4 linked regions of the Homo sapiens genome follow. The protein of the gene in region 1 purifies or fractionates together with the protein of each later gene. This does not show direct contact. Each region holds a gene or a part of one and is shown in the gene's direction. Other genes may lie near its edges. The genes, in order: PHF20L1, BCL11A, MTA3 and KANSL2.

Region 1 (7,040 bases):
ACATGCTGTCTATAGAGCATTGAAGGTGCCCTACTTAATACCAAATATGCACTTTTCTTCCCCAGCAAAATTTGACTTGTATCTCAGTGGGAACAGAATTATTTATTTATTTAGTCCCCAGAAAATGATCGTTCATATTCCAGAGAACTGCAGACAGCAGACCTGATAGTTATTCTCCACAAGATATGGAAGTAAAAAGATTTCTTGGGGACAAGCATGTTGTTTATAGTGCTAGCAGTCTGATTCTTTATAAAGGCCTATGGTAGAATAGATTTTCAAAAAATGCATATTATATATTTTGCTCTCAGATAAGTATATCAGAAAGAGATAGAAGTATTGCAGAACCATAGATTGCAAATTCATCCAATGTAGTTATTTTCTCTTGTTTTGAAAAATGGACACATTCACACATATTTTAACATATGTAGGAAATTTTACAGCCAAATGAATAAAAATGATCTTTTATGAAAGAACTGACAAAGTTCTAATTTTTTTTTAAAAGTATCAGTTGGCAGGAAGAAGGTAAAAACTCTCATCTAAGAATGCGACGTATTTTGTTTTTAAATCCAATGTTTTTAACTTACACTTTATCTCTTTGGTTTTTTTTTTGTTGTTGTTGCTTGTTTTGTATTGTTTTTTAGTCTTTTAACTCTATATTGCTGGTGGCTCTGATTTCATGATGCATTGTGCTTATGAAACTCTAGCTTTCAGCACTAAAATGAGTTAAAGATAATGTTTTGTTAATTTGGTCATTGTTTTTCCTGTTCAGATCTTTCTTTAAAGGGAATCTGTCTACTTAGACCTTTACATTCAACTTAAAAGAAAAGATTTTATAAGAAAACATCTAAAATCAAAAGCTTAAATGTATTCCTCTAATCCTTTAAAACATGAAAATGCTGTTTATTTTTCGAATTATTGTCATTGGCAATTATGGTTCCTAAAGGGGTATATTTCTATTTAATACTGAAAATATTTGTCCAGTAAGATAACATTTTATGTTCCGAAAATATTATGAATAATATATTTTAAAAAATGAATTTAGACTGAAAGTTGACAGCATCCCTTTAAAGACAGCCTATTCAACTTTTAGTTAATAATTTGTGGGGTTCTTTTTGGTTTTTCATTTGTAATAGAAATGTTATATGTTGCTTAACAATGTTTCTGGATACTAAAGTTGCTTAACAGTCAAAATAGAATACAAGAACAAAAATGAAGAAGCCAAAATAAAAATATCAATTTTTTATTATTTATTCAGGCGATTTCACCTAAACCTCAAAGTCAGAAAAAAAATGAAGCTGACATTAGCAGTTCTGCCAACACTCAGAAACCTGCACTGTTATCCTCAACTTTGTCTTCAGGGAAGGCTCGCAGCAAGAAATGCAAACATGAATCTGGAGATTCTTCTGGGTGTATAAAACCCCCTAAATCACCACTTTCCCCAGAATTAATACAAGTCGAGGATTTGACGCTTGTATCTCAGCTTTCTTCTTCAGTGATAAATAAAACTAGTGAGCACAGATTTTTAAAAAATAGTTATTTATCCTATAAGATACATTAAAAACAGTTTGATTGTAGTTATATTGTATTTTTATGAAGTTGCTTTTTAAAAACTCAAGTGGATATGATAGGGAAGGCTTGAAACTATTTCAGGGGCAAAAACCATAGACATTTCTTACTGATTTATTGCTTAGAGACTACTGCTGGTTGAGAATCCTTTCCATTTAATAACACAGATTCCACTGTAGTTTGACTCTCCTCAACTCATAATCCAAGCATACTGAGAGGCCTGATTCATTACAAAAAAAAAAAGTTATAAAAAGACCCAGGATAGCTATTTTTACTTAAGACTATTCCTGTAGATTTTTTGTCCCCACTTGTCTATAACTTTCCTCTGCAATACATTTTATTCATTCTTATTATAATATTTATAGTCTAGACTTCAGTTTAATCTTTTTAATGAAAAAAAAATGCCCCCATGATTGTATTTTTAAAGATTTTACTGTTTCAGTACTTCTAATTTTTCAAGAGTTAACGCAGTCTTTTTCGAAAACACCTTTCACATGGGTATATCTATCTATCTCCCTATATATCTGTATATATAAATAATACAAGATTTGTGTTGACCCTGAGTTTCTCATATTAGTTTAGTATCCTAAGTTGGAGACATGAATAACAGTTATTTGAAAAGTCAGTTGGTAAATGATGGTTTTTTTTGCTCTTTATGCAAAAAATGAAATACATGATCAGTTGAGTGAATATGACATGTTTCCTTATTCCATATTGTGTCTTCCAGAATAATCAAAGATGTTGGCATTCAGAAGACTTTTATCAAACTTATTAACCTATTTTCCTTCAGTTGCCATATTTTCTACTGAATCATTTTTTCATTTTGATCAGGTTTTGCTTTTTCTTTTTAATAGGTGGAAAGAATGGGAACATAATTCAATTGTTTTCCTAATAAGCTTCATTTCATTATGGCATTTATCATGAAATAGTGTCAGTAGTAGTCACTGGAATGTCATATGACATTAATAAACATTTTATTTTGGAAATTATATCTTGGTATTATAACCACAATATTATAGCAATTAAATTTTATTCTTTCATATTTTTAAGTTATCAGCATGTCTTTTTCGTTTTGATTGTAAAATTACTCTTAAATACCCAAACATCAATGTCTTTAGACTGTTCTTATTTCCTCTTTCTAAATTAACATGAATATATTGGCATATATAATCTTGCCTATTCTAGTCAAATGTGTTTGTATGCCATGTAGAAAGAAGATATCTAAAAGTGTGAGAGACATTTCCAAATATTTATATTATATTGCTAGAAGATGCCTAAATTACTTACCAAGTTGTTAAAAAACACAAGTACACAATGTCATAATCTTAAATATCCTCATTATTTGCTCACAATAAGTATACAAAGTTGTTTTTGTTCATTTTTTTTTTTTAATGAATCAGGCCCAGACATGTTTATAAAACTCCATTTGGGGGGGATGATGATGGGATAAAATTATTTACATTAGTGTAAAGTAAATCACTAACTCTATAATGTTGTATCATCTTTGTCCCTGCCTTTTTTTCCCTTAGAGTTTCTAGATTTGCAATGTAGCAAAAGGAATACATATATATATATTTTTCCTTATCTTTTGCTGTAAAGAGACTATTTTCCCGAAGGAAAAATGGCAATTTACACAACGATCTGCAATTAGAGAAATTAACTGTAGTCTGTCACTTGGGGGAGCTACTTGAAATTAATGTTCCATTTTATTTTCTTTTAGTTCTAGTAGAGTGTAGATTTTACAATTTTTGATTGACTCATTTTGAATGAGGGCACAATTTTTGCCTTTGATTACCTTTGGAACATGCCATTCCTTGTGGATATCTTATAACAACATCAGAGGGAAGAATATAAATCATTTTTTCCCATTTATCTCCTTAAATATTGTAAGATGCTCCTGGTATGTATCTGCTTCGTGAACATTGAAGATCTTTTTCTAGGTCCTCCACAGCCTGTGAATCCCCCTAGACCTTTCAAGCATAGTGAGCGGAGAAGAAGATCTCAGCGTTTAGCCACCTTACCCATGCCTGATGATTCTGTAGAAAAGGTTTCTTCTCCCTCTCCAGCCACTGATGGGAAAGTATTCTCCATCAGTTCTCAAAATCAGCAAGAATCTTCAGTACCAGAGGGTAATGTATATTGATTTCCTATAGAACCAAACATAAAAGAAGATAAAGAAAAAACTAAGAGATAAAGATTATTAAAATATTAAGATATTTCTGCTCTTATATCTTCTGGAGTTATAAGCACTTCACTTATTCTACAAATATTTATTGAGTGCCTTCTTTGTGCCAGGCACTGTTTAAATTATGTAACACTTTAATTCACAGTGATAGTAACTGAGCCATTTTATCTGTGTTAATATTACATTACACTCTTTATTTTGTGTAGTGCCTGATGTTGCACATTTGCCACTTGAGAAGCTGGGACCCTGTCTCCCTCTTGACTTAAGTCGTGGTTCAGAAGTTACAGCACCGGTAGCCTCAGATTCCTCTTACCGTAATGAATGTCCCAGGGCAGAAAAAGAGGATACACAGATGCTTCCAAATCCTTCTTCCAAAGCAATAGCTGATGGAAGAGGAGCTCCAGCAGCAGCAGGTAAAAGAAAAAAAATAAAGGCTCCTATAAGTAGATAAGTAGCTAGGCTTGCAGTTATTAGGTATAAACATTTTGAGGTTTAACTACATTATTTTGATTCCTATATAATTCCTTTTCATAAATACTTTAACATTTATAGGAGAGTTTCATCTCCGTTTTAAAGGTCTTTTGTGTGATCATTTTACAATCATATTCCCTGGACATACATGCTGCTTAACCTTGTCACTTGATCTATTTCCTTCTCCCTGCTTCTTTTTTATATATCCTTATTTCTACTAAATATAAATTATTAGAGCCAAGTATAGTTACAGGAATTCTTACTTTTGAAGCTGGGAAATACTTAATGGGATCAGTACTTTGGTTTAAGGATTTTGATAGAATTTAATATTTAAGAAACACTGAGCTATATGCCTGTATCTTAAATATAATTCCATATTTTGGGGCAGAATCCTCCAAATTGAATTAAATTTGCTGTAAAGTTATTTGAGGAGTGCAATATGTAAAATCAGCCATCCTTAATAACACATTTTTTGCATGATTTTGTGATATTTATTGTAGTTCGAAAGCATTTGGATGTGTATTTTACCAAGCTGATATTTTAAATCTAATAATATCTATTCATGTTTCCCTTATGTGGGTGCATTGTTTTATTTAGAAGTTTTTAAGAATTATAACCTGATCTAGAATACACATAAAATAAAAAGGCCAATACTAGTTACAAATGCACTTCTGGTAAATTACTGTTGGAACTAGATGTTTGAAGGAAGTCTGAATTTAGTTTGTTGTGAGTTGGAGAAAAACATAAGGCAGTTTGTTGATTCGTTACCAAGGGTGTTGGTGATCATTGTGTTTACAGGCGTCTTCCCTGAAACCATTTTATCCATTTTTTGGATGAAGCATAAAATGAAACTTATTCTTTTCTGGTGATGGCATGTATTGAAATAAAATGATTGAAGTAACATAAGAGACATATACTTATTTTTATTAATTTTTATCTTTATATAAAGGTTGAAGTTACTTTGTACATGATAATTCTTTATCATGTTTAAAAAAATAAAACAATACCCAAATGTGAATATTTGTAGATTTTGAAACATTTCCTGTAGTTTCTCAAATCAGATCTATTGTCTTTTGACTCTTGGTCTTTCCTTAAGATAATTAATTTTTCTTTTCCACTTTTCCACAAGATTTCCAAATTGTCATTGACCCATTGAGATACTTTTTTGATAAAGGTCTTATTCGGTTCTTTAACGATCTGGAATTTGTTACCGTACTGAATATATGAAAAATATGTTAAAGTTATAAGGTTGTATATACATTGGGAAAATTATTTTCAAATGTACATGTGAAAATATTTACATTTTTCTTTAAAAGTATTCTAATATTTGTAACAATATTGAAATATAGGCCAATATAAGTAACTGTGTAATAACTAAGAGTCTTACATTAACAGATTATATATCATAAAATATCAATGTAGTGATTGTGCATGGAAGTCCTTGACTTCGATGATTTTGCTTCTAACCAGATTATTAACTTCCTCTTTTCAGAATTTCTAGCATATTTGTGGCAATGTGGCTGACTACCTTAGAGGAAGGCACACGAATATTCTTTCCCTTTTTAAATATTAGCAGTAACTATTGGAAAAGTAAAATAAGTAAGATCGTTTTCTGGGAAAGTAAAAGGTAGAGAGGAGTTTAGCTATAATTTGAATTTGTGGAAGAGTAAGGATTATCTGGATATGATGAGCTTAATAGTACAGTAGCTGTCAACTTTAATTGATTATAGCAAGGAAATGCATAGTTTTAATTGTTAATTACTGAAGATTTATTAGAGGGTTGAACACAGTATTTGAATAGAGGGAGGTGAAATTCTCATTTGTTTCTGTGACCTCTTAATTTTTAGTTTTTGAGGAAAGTAGTGCAATTTAGGTCATGTTCTGACTGAACACCTTTTGATTACAACCTTGTGTGCCTGTCCCACGTGCATTGAAATTCTCGGTGGTCTCTATGCTTTTCTCCTTAACCTTTTTGTTATTCACCCTCTCTTGACTATTTTGCAGTATTTGTTATGCTTCTGTCTGTTCCCCAAGTCCTTTTACATCTAGAGCCAAAGTGCCAGGTTTTTATGTTTTTATTTCTCTGATACATATGTACATATATGCACATACTCATACACACATGTATGTTTTGTTGGTGTCCATATTATAAAAGTAAATTTTCTTACTGTTGAATTTTAAAACTGATAATTGAAAACATTCTTTACAGTTCGTCAGAGACATTTTCTGAGTTATTTTTGTCAAATTGAAACTCTTGGGGAGTTTAGAATGATGAGGGTGTTAGTTGCTAACTGTGAAATTGTTCAACATGGTTAGGTTTTTACTTTTGGGGGAGCAAGATAAATTCACACTGTTGAGTTTAGCATTTGATGCTGAAGGATTGATGAGATTTGCAGATAGTCCAATTATTATATACAACTTTTCTTAATTGTTTTCCAATAGAGATAATGAACTTGCAATAATCTCTCGTATGTTCTTCTGCTGGGGTGGATGCCCACATGTCTAGCCACTGTTAAGAATGCTATTGCTGCCTACATTACCAAACAAGTAATTGGTATCTTTGTAAAAATTGATGCCTTTGTTTTTATTTTACTATCAGGATGCTTTGTCACAGAGCCAGCCAATTTTAGATAAGGATACAGCCTCAGAAAATCTTAATTCTGTTAGTATCTGGGAGGATAGAGTAAATCAAGTTTTTTGAAAAGGGGTCTTTTGAAAAATACTCTTGGTTCAGGTTCTCACAGGCACCTTGGGCCAACAGTTATCTATTGCCCCTTGTCAACACAATTCTCTTTAGGTGGGAAGCACAGTGTGAACA
Region 2 (3,001 bases), on another chromosome or scaffold:
AACCACATCGATGGTTCTTTCTACTTGTTATAAACTTGTAGCTTAATTCAGCATTGGGTGAGGTAATAAACCTTAGGAACTAGCATATAATTCTATATTGTATTTCTCACAACAATGGCTACCTAAAAAGATGACCCATTATGTCCTAGTTAATCATCATTTTTCCTTTAGTTTAATTTTATAAACAAAACTGATTATACCAGTATAAAAGCTACTTTGCTCCTGGTGAGAGCTTAAAAGAAATGGGCTGTTTTGCCCAAAGTTTTATTTTTTTTAAACAATGATTAAATTGAATGTGTAATGTGCAAAAGCCCTGGAACGCAATTAAATACACTAGTAAGGAGTTCATTTTATGAAGATATTTGCTTTAATAATGTCTTTTTAAAAATACTGGCACCAAAAGAAATAGATCCAGATCTACTTGGTTGTCAAGTGGACAATCAAATGATAAACTTTAAGACCTTGTATACCATATTGAAAGGAAGAGGCTGACAATAAGGTTTGACAGAGGGGAACAGAAGAAAATAATATGATTTATTAGCACAACGTGGTACTATTTGCCATTTAAAACTAGAACAGGTATATAAGCTAATATTGATACAATGATGATTAACTATGAATTCTTAAGACTTGCATTTAAATGTGACATTCTTAAAAAAAGAAGAGAAAGAATTTTAAGAGTAGCAGTATATATGTCTGTGCTCCCTAAAAGTTGTACTTCATTTCTTTTCCATACACTGTGTGCTATTTGTGTTAACATGGAAGAGGATTCATTGTTTTTATTTTTATTTTTTTAATTTTTTCTTTTTTATTAAGCTAGCATCTGCCCCAGTTGGTGTTCAAATAGCACTTGACTCTGCCTGTGATATCTGTATCTTTTCTCTAATCAGAGATACAGAGGTTGAGTATAAAATAAACCTGCTCAGATAGGACAATTAAGTGCACTGTACAATTTTCCCAGTTTACAGGTCTATACTTAAGGGAAAAGTTGCAAGAATGCTGAAAAAAAATTGAACACAATCTCATTGAGGAGCATTTTTTAAAAACTAAAAAAAAAAAAACTTTGCCAGCCATTTACTTGACTATTGAGCTTACTTACTTGGACGCAACATTGCAAGCGCTGTGAATGGAAACAGAATACACTTAACATAGAAATGAATGATTGCTTTCGCTTCTACAGTGCAAGGATTTTTTTGTACAAAACTTTTTTAAATATAAATGTTAAGAAAAATTTTTTTTAAAAAACACTTCATTATGTTTAGGGGGGAACTGCATTTTAGGGTTCCATTGTCTTGGTGGTGTTACAAGACTTGTTATCCATTTAAAAATGGTAGTGGAAATTCTATGCCTTGGATACACACCGCTCTTCAGGTTGTAAAAAAAAAAAACATACATTGGGGAAAGGTTTAAGATTATATAGTACTTAAATATAGGAAAATGCACACTCATGTTGATTCCTATGCTAAAATACATTTATGGTCTTTTTTCTGTATTTCTAGAATGGTATTTGAATTAAATGTTCATCTAGTGTTAGGCACTATAGTATTTATATTGAAGCTTGTATTTTTAACTGTTGCTTGTTCTCTTAAAAGGTATCAATGTACCTTTTTTGGTAGTGGAAAAAAAAAAGACAGGCTGCCACAGTATATTTTTTTAATTTGGCAGGATAATATAGTGCAAATTATTTGTATGCTTCAAAAAAAAAAAAAAGAGAGAAACAAAAAAGTGTGACATTACAGATGAGAAGCCATATAATGGCGGTTTGGGGGAGCCTGCTAGAATGTCACATGGATGGCTGTCATAGGGGTTGTACATATCCTTTTTTGTTCCTTTTTCCTGCTGCCATACTGTATGCAGTACTGCAAGCTAATAACGTTGGTTTGTTATGTAGTGTGCTTTTTGTCCCTTTCCTTCTATCACCCTACATTCCAGCATCTTACCTTCATATGCAGTAAAAGAAAGAAAGAAAAAAAAAGGAAAAAAAAAAAAAAACCAATGTTTTGCAGTTTTTTTCATTGCCAAAAACTAAATGGTGCTTTATATTTAGATTGGAAAGAATTTCATATGCAAAGCATATTAAAGAGAAAGCCCGCTTTAGTCAATACTTTTTTGTAAATGGCAATGCAGAATATTTTGTTATTGGCCTTTTCTATTCCTGTAATGAAAGCTGTTTGTCGTAACTTGAAATTTTATCTTTTACTATGGGAGTCACTATTTATTATTGCTTATGTGCCCTGTTCAAAACAGAGGCACTTAATTTGATCTTTTATTTTTCTTTGTTTTTATTTTTTTTTTTATTTAGATGACCAAAGGTCATTACAACCTGGCTTTTTATTGTATTTGTTTCTGGTCTTTGTTAAGTTCTATTGGAAAAACCACTGTCTGTGTTTTTTTGGCAGTTGTCTGCATTAACCTGTTCATACACCCATTTTGTCCCTTTATTGAAAAAATAAAAAAAATTAAAGTACACATTGTAAGCTTCTTGTGTCCTCATTTGACACACTCTGTAAATTACTTGCAAGAAAATAACAGGTTTTAAGAGAAGGCCAGTCAGTCTTTTTCAGGATTATTTCTATGGGCATTCTGATGCGTGTATTATACCCTAAAGGAACATAAAGTACTTACTATATTAAAATAGACATATCTCAAACCCTGGACATAGTTTTAAGGCTTTCCAGTTTAGAATAGTTTTCAAGAAATGGAAGGTGTTTTCAGTCTGATGTTAAAAACTTACTCCATCTCTTAGCAGAAATCCATTCAAACATAAGTGAAAAAACTTGCTGGTAATAGCATCTTAAACTTTTATTTCCTTTAAATTTTTTGCTGTTCTTGTTGTCTAAAAGTTCTTTTCTATTCTCCCATCCTTGCTTTATCTTAGAACATAATGTAAAAAAGATTTTTTTAAAAAAAATCAGCTCTTTGGTTTCCATGTAAGAGTCTTTTCTCATAACAAAATAACCCCACTTTTGAAATCTAAAAATCTGGAAACAAAGGCATCAGG
Region 3 (7,040 bases), on another chromosome or scaffold:
TTCCCATGATGCATACCAAATTCCCCTTTGGAGTTTCTCAGTATACTTTGACAAATTAAAGCTCCAAGTAATTCTGTAGGAAAGGCCTCTGTGTGGATAAGCTGCTGTATATAATCCTCAGACCATGTTCCCTCAGTGCACCAGTTTGGGAAATGCTCTTCTATGATACTTGCTTTTGGCCTCAGGATCCCACTGTATTTATCTATGGTGGCAGTATTTTATTTGCCCAGGGTGTTAAATGGGGTCGGTGAAGTGAACCGTTAGGTAGTTGATAGACTTTGTGTGTTTATTTTAAATCTCAAGCAAGGATACAATATCTTAATGGGGCATTGGTGATATTATCATCTATGTTTCCTTCCAGTTAAGGTAGCCTGGGATGGGAGAGGGAAGGAAACGAATGTTTATTGAAAACCTACTTGGTGCCCCATTTTGGGTTCTTAGTAGCTCTTTGAGAGTACATGTAGCCTACTGCCTTCAGGAAGGATATAGGAATGAGGGACGGCTGTGAGTACGATTACGTCGATTGATCCCAAGGAAGGTGTGAGCCAAGTTGCTGAATTTGTAGAAATGGTACATGGGGATGTGTTTAACCATTTTTTTGCAGCATGGGAGCACAAAGGGAAACAATTTGTGGAAAATTAAGATTTTTTAGGTCAGGCTTTTACATGGATAGCATCATAAATACCTTGAATTGGGAATTCTTGGATTTTGTAGTTCATGTATATTCAAATGAAAATGAAAAGAATCCTGCAGACAAGTGGTAGTGGCTTAACCTGTCTTGATTTTAACTTGCAGGCAGGGTGCTGTGGCTCATGCCTGTAATCCCAGCACTTTGGGAGGCTGAGGCGGGTGAATCACCTGAGGTCAGGAGTTCGAGACCAGCCTGGCCAACATGGTGAAACCCCGTCTCTACTAAAAATACCAAAAATTAGCCAGGCATGGTGGCATGCACCTGTAATCCCAGCTACTCAGGAGGCTGAGGCAGGAGAATAGCTTGAACCCAGGAGGCAGAGGTTGCAGTGAGCTGAGATTGCACCATTGCACTCCAACCTGGGTGACAGAGTGAAACATCGTCTCCCCCCCGCCCCCAAAAAAAAAATTAACTTGCAAACCCCTTTCACACTCACGTATATCCCCTTAAATGATTATTCTGTTATTTTTATGTGTGCATGATGAATAAGCTATTTTTATTTTATAATATTTACTTTAGACTCATGTATTACTAATCTCCATGATAAAATGTTATCTTAATATAAGATTTATCCTTACAGAGAGATAGAACTTGATGTTTTCTATTTATTAAATGATACCTACTTTCCAATTGAATTTGAGTTATTTAAGGAGAAAGGCATTTATTGACAATTATTAAAATGATTTGCATGATTAGTTTACGTAAAATGTATGTTTTAAGTGAAATTTTATATTTAGAATTCAAAATAGATTCATAGCTTAATGTTTAAGATTTTGAAGGGGAACATCACATCTGGGGACTGCTGTGGGGTGGGGGGAGCAGGGAGGGATAGCTTTAGGAGATATACCTAATGCTAAATGACGAGTTAATGGGTGCAGCACCCCAGCATGGCACATGTATACATATGTAACTAACCTGCACATTGTGCACATGTACCCTAAAACTTAAGGTATAATAATAATAAAATAAAAAATTTAAAAAATGACTTATTAGTTCTAAATTATAGGAGGAAAGGCTTTTAGGCTTTCATTTGTATAAAATAGTTATTTGTATAAATGAAAGCCTAAAATAGGCCTAAAATATTTACACAAATAAAAGCCTAAAATAATAATCCTCCAAAAATAATACATGATGGGTGTACAGTGTTATTCCCGATAAACATGAATATAATGGTCTCTGTATTTTCTCTTTTTCACATTGGTTTGTGAAGTGTTAGTTGATATCTTCATGTGCTGTTTGAACATTTGAAGGTAACTTACAGGTCAGAGAAATAATATTTTAAGGCAAACTTACAGAATTACAATTTTTTATGCACCCAATTAACTTATGTCTCAACCTCAATGTTTTCTCTTAAACTTCAGATCTATCACACATGTATTTTAAATGTCACATGTCAGTAATTTAAACTACAAAACAAAAACTAACACAAGCTTACAGTGTTCAGCTAGCTGTTAAATCATCTGAGTTTTAGGCCTCAAGCATGCTGTGATGTCAGCTGCCCATGCTCACTTCATATGGATTTAGAGTCTTGAAAGGGATTCTGTCTGTAAATGGAGATTTTAAAATAAGGATTTTACTTATTGATTAAAATAAAGGAGTGCAAAACAGATACCTGTTTGTTTCTTCTCTCCTCCCCTACTCCCTCCCTCTTCCCCTCCCCAGCCCCCTCCTCCTCCCCGCTTCCCTCTGTAACCCAGGCTGGAATGCAGTGGTGCAATCACAGTGGCCTCAACCTCCCAGGCTCAAGCAGTCCTGCTGCCTCAGTCTCTGTAGTCGCTGGGACTACAGGGGTTCACCACCACACCTGGCTGACAGATACCTGTTTTTATTAGATTCCTGACTTTATCAATGAGACCTCCCTGAGTACCTTAAATAATCCTTGGAGTGGTGTCTGAACCCTGGGTTTGGAAACGTGGATTTAGATTTTTTTTTTTTTTCTTTTGAGATGGAGCCTCACTCTGTCGCCCAGGCTGGAGTGCAGTGGCGTGATCTCAGCTCACTGTAACCTCTGCCTCCCACATTCAAGCAATTCTACTGCCTCAGCCTACCGAGTAGCTAGGACTACAGGTGCGTGCCACCATGCCTGGCTAATTTTTTTTGTGTGTTTTCAGTAGAGACGGGGTTTCACCGTGTTAGCCAGGATGGTCTTGATCTCCTGACCTCATGGTCCGCCTGCCTCAACCTCCCAAAGTGCTGGGATTACAGGCGTGAGCCACCATGTCCGGCCCCAGATTTTTTAAATACTACCATCTTTTTGAGAACCTATTTCCAGAAACATACACAATAGAGTATTTTTAATCAACAAAACAAAAACTCCCTCAGCAGCACAATGCATAATACAGGATGCTTCACTGAATAGCTTTAACAGGGCCACAAGCACTTTATATAATAATGGAAATAAGTTGGTTTAATGAATTCTGAGTATTAAAAAAACAAATATACTATTATGTTTGGCTTGTAAGCTGGGAACAATAACATTGTAAACTAAGCATGACAAGTATTTTTAAAATGTTTGATTATTTTGTGTTGATGTTACAAATTAAATAGCATTTTTCGTTTTTTCTTATTTTTCTTCTGCTTTAGCTACACAGTCTCACCAGTGGTATTCTTGGGGCCCACCTAATATGCAGTGTAGATTATGTGCAATTTGTTGGCTTTATTGGAAAAAATATGGAGGCTTGAAAATGCCCACCCAGTCAGAAGAAGAGAAGTTATCTCCTAGCCCAACTACAGAGGTACAGTAGTCTTTTTAGTGTTGAAAAATGGCATGTTTTTAAATGGGTTGATTATTCCTTGGAAACAGAAGTACAGTATAGGATAATTAAAAAATGAAGAAAGCTACCTTTATAGCTAAACGTAGCACTACAATATTCAGGGTAGGTGTGGAGAGAAGCAGAGAGAAATTAAATTTTATCAGGTATTCAGAATAATGGTCTCAGACAAAAAAACAATGAGTGTGGGAGATGTTAGCATAAGTAGAGAGCTTACAAATTAAATGTTTAATTGCTTTTGAAAACAGTTCGTAACCTTTACATTCTGTTGAAGGCGTGTCTTACTACATAAAGTCATAAATGCAAATTAAGCATTTTTTCTCCCCGTGGCTGTTTTGGAGGGACAAGAAGTATGGACTTAATCTTGAGGTGAACAACAGTTTAAATGTGATTTTGGTAAAATCCTCATAGGCTGAAGATGCCAAACGCCTGTGTTTACCAGTGGGCGACTACCCTTTTTCAGTGCTGACGGGCTTTCAGGACTCCTTAATTTAAAAAAAAGTGTAGTTAACCCCCTTGGCAGTTTCATACCACTTACTGTGAATGTGATTTTGGATTCCTGTATAGCAGTACAGTATTCTCCACAGTTCCCTTCTCTACTCCCCACCTCTTTCCCAAAAGTGCACACTTTAATTCTCTCTTTTAGAGGTAGTGCACCAAGTGACGTTATAGATGCTTCATGAAAGATTTAAAAGTTGCACTTTTCTTTTGAGCATGATGCAAACAGTAACGTGTTTGGGCAAGTTCACTTCCTTGAGTGTTTGTTGTTTTCTGATTTTGCAGGACCCTCGTGTTAGAAGTCACGTGTCCCGCCAGGCCATGCAGGGAATGCCAGTCCGAAACACTGGGAGTCCAAAGTCTGCAGTGAAGACCCGCCAAGCTTTCTTCCTTCATACTACATATTTCACAAAATTTGCTCGTCAGGTCTGCAAAAATACCCTCCGGCTGCGGCAGGCAGCAAGACGGCCGTTTGTTGCTATTAATTATGCTGCCATTAGGGCAGAATGTAAGATGCTTTTAAATTCTTAACCTTATATGTTGTGCTTCTGACCATTTTCTCTTTTCCTCTCTTTCCTTTTTTTTTTGTTTGTTTGTTTGCAATAAACATAAGTTCTTGTGTACAGCCTTTTATTTGGTTTATTTTTTAACATTGTTTTTGTGTGCTGCCATTTGTATCATGCCAACCTGGAAAAAAAAAATCAAAACATTGAAACTTCTGTACTCTTTACCAGAGAGTAGTGCTTAGCAAAAGATTGGTGGGAGGTGATCCTATTCCATGGGGTTTTGTGATGGAATTGCCTGCAGAGCCCTTATTGAAGCACTTTTACCTTTTAGGTAGTGCCACAATGTAACCCCTAAGGATGCTGTTATAATGAGACTCCATAATCGAGACAGTACAGTCCAGTCTTACATGGATTCATTAGGTTTAAATAAAATTTGCCAATTTACACTAATTAGAGACTGTATGTCTTTGTAAACCTCTCGTTTTTCTCATGAACCTTTTACAATTGTCATACAACATTATGGAAATTCACCCTTGATTCATAACAAATACTATATTTATTAGAAGGTCTAGCAAATTACAAGTAAATTTTAAACTCATTTTTGGGTGAGTTTTCTGAAATTACACATTGCATTTTCATAAGCTAGCATCTAAACATATGGTTGAGCAGCCTGTTTGTCCAGTTTGGTTTCCATTTCATGATCATGTATCATATATATCACCACATAACATTTACATGACTTACTACTCTTATTTTCAACACATTTGGTCTTGCTTATCTTTTTTATTTTTATTTTTGTTAGCACAGAGATCATATGTGTCCATGAATTGTGGATCGTTTTGTCATTACCATGTCTCTGACAATATGTGTATAATTAATATGTTAGCTCTGGAGTCACATTCCAGGCTAGCATGTTAGAGCCGTGCAGCTTTTGTTCCTTAAGGGGTGACAAAACTTGCTGTCTGGCCTAACAGATAGGAAATCCTAAAGCCATTCTAAGAAATCTCTTACTATGAAATGTTCCCCTTTGATTTAAAGAGGATATCAATAAAAGGAATGATGACTGAAAAAAACATTTTTTGTTCCTAAAGATAATTTTTAGCAGAATAGTTGAAAGGCTTTAAAACTTAAGTAGCAGCTCTATAAGAAGAAAAATGCTTTGTAAAGGGAGTTGAGGGCTGGGCGCGGTGGCTCATGCTTGTAATCCCAGTACTTTGGGAGGCCGAGGTGGGTGGATCACCTGAGGTCAGGAGTTCGAGACCAGCCTGGTCAACATGGTGAAACTGTCTCTACTAAATATACAAAAATTAGCCAGGCGTGGTGGCAGGCGCCTGTAATCCCAGCTACTCAGGAGGCCAAGGCAGGAGAATTGCTTTAAACCGGGAGGCAGAGGTTGCAGTGAGCTGAGATTGCGCCATTGCGCTCCAGCCTGGGCAATGAGCGAAACTTCATCTCAAAAAAAAAAAAAAAAAAAAAAAAAGAAAGTGGTAGCAATGTCAGAGTCCCACAGAAGGGGGATTACTATATTAGATTCATGTATATTTGAGAGTTTAGGCTTATATTTAGGTTTTGTGCTAGCATTTGAGACCTCATGGACTTACGTTACCACTTTCCCATTTTGGGAATTAGAAATATTTATAGTCTAAATTGTTCAGCTCATTTAAAACACATTTTCATGTAATTTTTTAAATAAAATGGTGAAGACCAGTCACGGTGGCTTACGCCTGTAATCCTAGCACTTTGGGAGGCCGAAGTGGGCAGATCACCTGAGGTCAGGAGTTAGAGACTAGCCTGGCCAACATGGTGAAGCCTCATCTCTACTAAAAATTCAAAAATTAGCCAGGCATGGTGGCACACGCCTGTAATCCCAGCTGCTTGGAAGGCTGAGGCAAGAGAATCACTTGAACCTGGGAGGCAGAGGTTGCAGTGAGCTGAGATCATGCCACCGCACTCCAGCCTGGGCAACACAGACTCCGCATTAAAAAATAAATAAATAAATAAAAATTAAAAAGTAAAACATTTAAGAATGAAAATGAATGAGACTTTTCCATTAAGATTGGTGGGGATCCAGTATCATCTTTGTCCTAGGACTAGAAGAGAAACCATCAGCAACTCAGTTGGCTGCTGAGGAAACTCTGTTTCCCCAGGGCTTGTGTGTTAATTTTCAGTTAATTTGCACATTATCTTTGTTTTGATTATTCTTCAATGAAGTATATTTTTCTTTTATCTCGTTCTAATTTTTTTCTCAATTGACGGGCCATGCTGCTAAAAGGGATCATAATTAAGTTACCTGTATTTTATTTCTATAAGCATATAGATTATAGTAATCATAAAAGAGCAGTCGTCTATCTGGATGAAATTCAGAGAGCATGTATTATTTTGTTTTGTATTTAGCTTCACTGGTCATTGAGTTGTACATAATCAGATTCTTAAATAATTTTACCTTGAGATTTAAAATGACAGTGTTTCAGCAGCCGTCTACTCTTTTTTATTTTTCAGACAAGCAATGAACTTTTCCTAACATCTAATTGATTATGCTATCATCTCTTCTGTTCTTATACTTACCTTGTTACA
Region 4 (7,040 bases), on another chromosome or scaffold:
TGTTCACTTTCTTTTCAACATAATGCAAATAGCTGGGAAAAATAAGACATTTCTCCTTCCCCCATTTTGGGAAATCACAGATTAGTATTCTTTCTTGGAGATTTTCTCTTTTGTTTTATTTAATAACAACTTGAATGGTACAATGTTTTGCAAAAACATTAAGGTGATTATGTCACCACTTGTTAAATAACAAACTTAGTCTGACATCTCTACTCTTTCAAACTTGGGTTTTATTATTATTGTTTTCTTATGCTTTGCTGAATTCTGTTTTATTCCAGACATGCTGGTGTCTACACAGCAGAAGAAGTGGCCCTGATTATGCGTGAAAAGCTAATTCGTTTGCAGTCGTTGTATATTGATCAGTTTAAACGACTTCAGCATCTGCTCAAGGAGAAGAAGCGCCGATACTTACATAATCGCAAAGTGGAACATGAAGCTCTAGGCAAGTTTTATGCCAGTTCCAACAAGCTGTTGTGGGTTTAACATGTGAATTTGGTAGTACAGTCATGTGTCACTTAATGATGGGGATACATACTTTGTTAGGTGATTTTTGTCATTCAAACTTCATGGAGTGACTCACGCTAACGTAGGTGGTATAGCCTGCAACATACCTAGGCTGCAAACCTGTACAAGCATGTTACTGTACTGAATACTGTGGGCAGTTGTAACAGTGGTATTTGTGTACCTAAACACATCTAAACAGAGAAAAGGTACAGTTAAATTATGGCATAAAAGATTTTAAAAATGGGCACTTAGCATGAATGGAGCTTGTAGGACTGGAAGTTATTTTGGGCGAGTGAGTGAGTGGTGAGTCAATGGGAAGGCCTAGCACATTATTATTTACTACTTTAGACGTTATAAGTACTGTACACTTAAGCTGTACTAAATTTATAAAAAAAGTTTCTTCAATAATAAATTAACCCTTAGCTTACTGTAACTTTTTTACTTTCATTTTTTTTTTTTTTTAATTGAGACGGACATGGAGTCTCACTCTGTTGCCCAGGCTGGAGTGCAGTGGCATGATCTCAGCTCACTGCAACCTCTGCTTCCTAGGTTCAAGCAGTTCTCCCACCTCAGCCTCCCAAGTAGCTGGGATTACAGGCACATTCCACCATGCCCGGCTAATTTTTTTATTTTTAGTAGAGGGGGGGTTTTGCCATGTTGGCCAGGCTGCTCTCGGAACTCCTGACTTCAAGTGATCCCCCTACCTTGGCCTCCCAAAGTGCTGGGATTTCAGGCATGAGCCACTGCGCCTGGCCTATAAGCTTTTTTTTAAAGAGACAGAATCTTGCTGTGTCACTGAGGCCAGAGTGCAGTAGCGTAGTCCTCACTCACTGCAGCCTTCAACTCCTGGACTCAGGCTATCCTGCCTCAGCCTCCTGAGTAACTAGGACTACAGATGCACCACCACACTCAGCTAATTTTTAAATTTTTGTAGAGACAGGGTCTCGCTATGTTGCCCAGGTTAGTCTTGAACTCCTGGGCTCAAGTGATCCTCCGACCGTGGCTTCCCAAAGTGCTGGGATTGATTACAGGCATGAGCCACTGCACCTGGCCTTTATAAACTTAAAAAAATTTTTAAGAAAAACTTCTGGACTCTGTAATAACACTTAGCTTAAAACACAAACACTGTACAGCTGTACAAAAATTTTTTTTATATCCCTATAAGCTTTTCTAGTTTTAATTAAAAAAAAATCCTTTTAAACTTCTGTTAAAAACTAAGATGCAAACACGTACATTAGCCTAGGCCTACATGGGCCTAGTGTCACTGTCTTTCACCTCCACATCTTGTCCCAGTGGAAGGTCTTCGGGGACAATCTCATGCAGCGAACTGTCATCTCATGATAACAATGTCTTCTGCAATACTTTCTGAGAGAACTGCCTGAGGCTGTTTTACATTTAACTTTTTTTTTTTAATAAATAGAGTGGAGTACATTCTAAGGATAAATATAGTAAATATATAAACCAGTAACATAGTTGTTTATTATCGAGTATTAGGTACTGTGCATAATTGTAGGTGCTAGATTTTTTTTTTTTTTTTTGTGATATAGTCTCACTCTGTCGCCAGGCTGGAGTGCAGTGTGTGATCTTGGCTCACTGCAACCTCCACCTCCCGGGTTCAAGCGATTCTCCTGCCTCAGCCTCCTGAGTAACTGGGACTATAGGCGCATGCCACCACGCCCAGCTAATTTTTGTATTTTTAGTAGAGATGGGGTTTCACCATGTTGGCCAGGATGTTCTCAATCTCCTGATCTGGTGATCTGCCCGCCTTGGGCTCCCAAAAAGTGCTGGGATTACAGGTGTGAGCCACTGTGTCCAGCCTGTGCTAGACTTGTATATAACTGGCAGTGCAGTAGGTTTGGTCACCAGCATCACCACAAATGTGTGGGTTGAACTATGATGTCACTAGGCAATAAGAATTTTTCAGCTTTGGCCGGGTGCGGTGGCTCATGCCTGTAATCCCAGCACTTTGGGAGGCCAAGGCAGGCGGATCATGAGGTCAGGAGATCGAGACCACAATGAAACCCTGTCTCTACTAAAAATACAAAAAAAAAATTAGCCGGGCGTGGTGGCGGGCACCTGTAGTCCCAGCTACTCAGGAGGCTGAGGCAGGAGAATGGCGTGAACCTGGGGGGCGGAGCTTGCAGTGAGCCAAGATTGCGCCACTGCACTCCAGCCTGGACAACAGAGCGAGACTGTGCCTCAAAAAAAAAAAAAATTTTTTTTCCAGCTTTGTTATAATCTTATGGGACCACCATAGTATGTATGGTCAATGATTGATTAAAAAGTGGTTATATAGTGCATGACTATAATTAGATTTATTTCTGTCTTGGTACCTGGATTGGGGGTCATTTGCTTTTGAAACTGCCTATCTTATGCCCAAGGATTTTCCTGTTTACTTGTTGACTTGGAGACGTAACCTTGATGGATTGCTTGGCAAATAACATCTTGACTCTTGTAACTCTAGGCAGTAGTCTCCTGACTGGCCCAGAGGGACTTTTGGCCAAAGAACGAGAGAACTTAAAGCGATTAAAATGTCTGCGACGATACCGCCAGCGCTATGGAGTGGAAGCCTTACTGCATAGGCAGTTGAAGGAACGGAGAATGCTGGCCACAGATGGTGCTGCCCAACAGGTAATTTGTGTGTATACCTTTAAGGTATATACGTTCACTTTATTTATTGTTTTTATTTTTTCGAGACGGAGTCTCGCACTGTCACTCGGGCTGGAGTGCAGTGGTGCGATGTCGGCTCACTGAGATCTCTCAACCTCTGCCTCCCAGTTTCAAGCAATTCTCCTGCCTCAGCCTCCCGAGTAGCTGGGATTACAGGTGCCCACCACCATGCGCCCAGCTAATGTTTTTGTATTTTTTGGGGTTTCACTATGTTGGCCAGGCTGGTCTCCAATGCCTGACCTCGTGATCTACCCACCTCGGCCTCCCAAAGTGTTGGGATTGCAGACATGAGCCACCGTGCCTGTTCATGTTCACTTTATTTACAAAGTTAGAGTAATTGTCAAAACACTATGTCCAGTCTTTTTTTGAGACAGAGTTTCAATCTTGTTGCCCAGGCTGGAGTGCAATGGCGCCGTCTTGGCTCACCGCAGCATCCACCTCCTGGGTTCAAGTGATTCTCCTCCCTCAGCCTCCTGAGTAGCTAGGATTACAGGCATGTGCCACCATGTCTGGCTGATTTTGTATTTTTAGTAGAGACGGGGTTTCTCCATGTTGGTCAGGCTGGTCTTGAACTCCCTATGTCCAGTCTTGGATCTGAAATCTGACTTTTTGCACATGGGTTATAGTGAAAGCACTTAGCTTGAAGTCAGGAGACATGGATTCTAGTGTGAGTCCCCACTGACCAGCTCTGTGTCTGCACAGTTAGCTTAAATTTTCTGGGCCTCAGTATTCTCATCTGCATATTGAGTAGTTGGGAAAAGTTTCTAAGTCCTTGGTTCAGATATTCTTCAGTTCAGAAATAAGCACAGGTTAATCCTAAATTGCTTGGGAATCTTGTTTTAAAAGGTGGGAAGGTAGAATAGGAGCAATTGAATGTCAGGAAGTAAGGTTAATAGGAAGAAGAATTAAGTGATCATTCTTAAATTTGTTTTTCAGACCCTTGGTCTCTGTTTCAGTAAGAGTAATTTTGTTTCATTTGTTGAGATTCCACTTAAGGCTGCAATTTCAGAGTTCTGTTGGTAAAAGACAAAATTTGTGTTAAATAGGCTATATCACACTTTTAGAATATGGAGAGGTGTATTTGGGATTGAGGTTGACTCATTCTTTATGCACTAGGTTTTAAAGTTTTTTGTCTTTTGCATAATATTGGTGAATCTATTTTTGTTAAATGTTGAATTTCTAGCCTTTAGGATGTGCTTTTCTTATATAACTATTTTCATCGTAATTGTTTGTGTGTTCTTTTGTGGGTCTATTTTATCTGTCTTTTTCCATTTCAGGCCCATACCACTCGTTCCAGTCAGAGGTGCTTGGCCTTTGTGGATGATGTTCGTTGTTCCAATCAGTCTCTTCCAATGACCAGACACTGCCTTACCCGTATCTTTTTACTCTGCCTGTTAAGGCTGTGGTTTGCTAGTTTGAAGACTAGTGGGAATCTCTGTGCTAGTTTGCTTAATTGAAGGATTTTGTTTTCCTTTGGCCCTGAATCAAGGCCAGCAGTTTGCTGAAGCTGTTGGTTTCAAGCAGGAGCCTAAAGAATTGTCTTTCTATGGTCTGTTGGCCATTTCATAACTTTGGAAATGTAATGGTCAATTCATTAGAAAGAAACATGAGTCGTTTTTCATAGATGTGGGCTAATATTTATTTATAGCCTTAATACTTGGGTCCCAAAATATACATAAAATATTTGTAATTGTCTCAAGGTTTCTGATTTAACTTGCTTATTAGGATCCTAATGCTGTTAAATCTAATTATAAACTTAAAAAATTACTGTGGGTTTTCCACCCCAGTTGAAAGGATGATTTTGCACTGTGAACTTCTAGTATTATCCTTTTGTGTGGTTAGGGCCCTCACTTCTGTATTTTATTTTATTTTTTATTTTTTGGAGATGGAGTTTTGCTCTAGTCTCCCAGGCTGGAGTGCAATGGCGTGATCTCGGCTCACTGCAACCTCCACCTCACTGCACCCTCCGCCTCCCGAGTTCAAGCGATTCTCCGAGTAGCTGGGATTATAGGCACGTACCACAATACCTGGCTAATGTTTGTATTATTAGTAGAGATGGGGTTTCACCATGTTGGCCAGGCTGGTCTCGAGCTCCTGACCTCAGGTGATCCACCCGCCTTGGCTTCCCAGAATGCTGGGATTACAGGAGTAAGCCACTGTGCCCGGCTTTTATTTTTTTATTTGTGTTTTTTGAGACAGGGTCTCACACTGTTATCCAGGCTGGAGTGCAGTGGCTCAGTCATAGCTCACTGCAGCCTTAACTCCTGGGTCAAGCAATTCTCCTACCTCAGCCTTCTGAATAGCTGGGACTATGTATGTGTGCCACCATGCCTGGCTAATTATTTATTTTATTTTATTATTAATTATATTTTTTGAGGCAGAGTCTCGCTGTGTCGCCCAGGCTGGAGTGCAGTGGTGTGATCTCGGCTCACTGCAACTTCCACCTCCTGGGTTCAAGCAATTCTTGTGTGTCATCCTCCTGAGTAGCTGGGATTACAGGCACGTGCCACCACGCCTGGCTAATTTTTGTATTTTTAGTAGAGATGGGGTTTCACCATGTTGGCCAGGTTGGTCTCAAATTCCTGACCTCAAGTGATCTGCCTGCCTCGGCCTCCCAAAGTGTTGGGATTACAGGCATGAGCCACTGCACCTGGCCTATTTTTTTTTTTTTTATTTTTTGTAGAGTCAATTTTCAATATGTTGCCCAGGCTGGTCTCAAACTGCTGGGCTTAAGCAGTCTGCCAGTCCTTTCCTCCCCAAATGCTGGGCTTACAGTCATCAGCCACTGTACCTGGCCTTTATAAACTTAAAAAAGAAACTTGGCTCTTTAAAAAGTTTTCTTTTTTTAATTTTTTTGAGACAGAGTCTTACTCTGTTGCCCAAGTTGGAGTGCAGTGGCATGATGATGGCTTACTGCCGTGATCTGCTGGGCTTAAACGATCTTCCCACCTCAGCCACCAGAGTAGCTGGGACTACAGGCATGTGCTACCACGTCCAGCTAATTTTATTTAATTTTTGTAGAGAGGTTGTGTCACTATGTTTCCCAGGCTGGTCTCGAACTTCTGAGCTCATGTGATCCTCCCGCCTCAGCCTCCCAAAGTGCTAGGATTACAGTTGTGAGCCACCATGCCCAGTCTCTTGACTCTTTTGTGATAACACTTAGTCACTGTGCCTGGCCTCTAACTTGCATACTTTAAACATCATTCAAATTAGAAGTTTGCTATTTCCAAAAATGAGATGCTTTTTTTCTTCTTTTCAATTAATTTGCCTTTGAACCATCATAATGTCTCTTGATTCTGTTAAAGGACTACATTTGGCATTGGGCCTTCAAACTTTTTTGAGTTGTTGATTGAATTGTGAAAGTGCTTATTTATTATAGGCATTGAGAAAAATTTCGCAGTAAAAGCACTTGTTAATTAAATAGGATTGCTGGATTTCATTTGCTTGGCAAGAAATGCCAAATATTTGGAAATTAAAACTTATTTTCTTTATTTGTTTTTTTTGAGACAGAATCTGACTCTGTCACCCAGGCTGGAGTGCAGTACCGTGATCTCAGCTTGCTGCATCCTCCACTCCCCTGGGTACAAGCGATTCTCCTGCCTCAGCCTCCCAAGTAGCTGGGATTGCAGGTGCCTGCCACCGTGCCCAGCTAATTTTTGTATTTTTAGTAGAGATGGGGTTTCACCGTGTTAGCCAGGATGGTCTCGATCTCCTGACCTTGTGATCTGCCTGCCTTGGCCTCCCAAAGTGCTGGGATTACAGGCATGAGCCACAGCGCCCGGCCACTTATTTTCTTTAATAGGGAGAGGAGAAGGAGAACCTCTTCTTAGTCTTTTGACAGGAAGCTGATTTTTATTTTGCTTATT

Evidence for each region.
Region 2: the proteins of PHF20L1 (region 1) and BCL11A purify together in Homo sapiens (affinity purification with mass spectrometry; 2 studies listed by BioGRID and IntAct, with this or other methods). This does not show direct contact.
Region 3: the proteins of PHF20L1 (region 1) and MTA3 purify together in Homo sapiens (affinity purification with mass spectrometry; 2 studies listed by BioGRID and IntAct, with this or other methods). This does not show direct contact.
Region 4: the proteins of PHF20L1 (region 1) and KANSL2 purify together in Homo sapiens (affinity purification with mass spectrometry; 2 studies listed by BioGRID and IntAct, with this or other methods). This does not show direct contact.

The regions. Positions count from the first base shown.
Region 1 is NC_000008.11:132,813,382-132,820,421, forward strand, and holds part of PHF20L1 (PHD finger protein 20-like protein 1), read left to right. Parts: intron 1-1,255; coding exon 1,256-1,508; intron 1,509-3,506; coding exon 3,507-3,695; intron 3,696-3,957; coding exon 3,958-4,164; intron 4,165-7,040.
Region 2 is NC_000002.12:60,456,662-60,459,662, reverse strand, and holds the end of BCL11A (BCL11 transcription factor A), read left to right. Parts: 3' UTR 1-2,469; downstream 2,470-3,001. UniProt on the Homo sapiens protein: Transcription factor. Associated with the BAF SWI/SNF chromatin remodeling complex. Binds to the 5'-TGACCA-3' sequence motif in regulatory regions of target genes, including a distal promoter of the HBG1 hemoglobin subunit gamma-1 gene.
Region 3 is NC_000002.12:42,704,629-42,711,668, forward strand, and holds part of MTA3 (metastasis-associated protein MTA3), read left to right. Parts: intron 1-3,274; coding exon 3,275-3,426; intron 3,427-4,245; coding exon 4,246-4,468; coding exon of another isoform or gene 4,469-4,491; exon of another isoform or gene 4,492-4,916; intron 4,917-7,040. UniProt on the Homo sapiens protein: Acts as a component of the histone deacetylase NuRD complex which participates in the remodeling of chromatin.
Region 4 is NC_000012.12:48,665,201-48,672,240, reverse strand, and holds part of KANSL2 (KAT8 regulatory NSL complex subunit 2), read left to right. Parts: intron 1-278; coding exon 279-442; intron 443-2,968; coding exon 2,969-3,135; intron 3,136-4,451; coding exon 4,452-4,548; intron 4,549-4,647; exon of another isoform or gene 4,648-4,784; intron 4,785-7,040. UniProt on the Homo sapiens protein: Non-catalytic component of the NSL histone acetyltransferase complex, a multiprotein complex that mediates histone H4 acetylation at 'Lys-5'- and 'Lys-8' (H4K5ac and H4K8ac) at transcription start sites and promotes transcription initiation.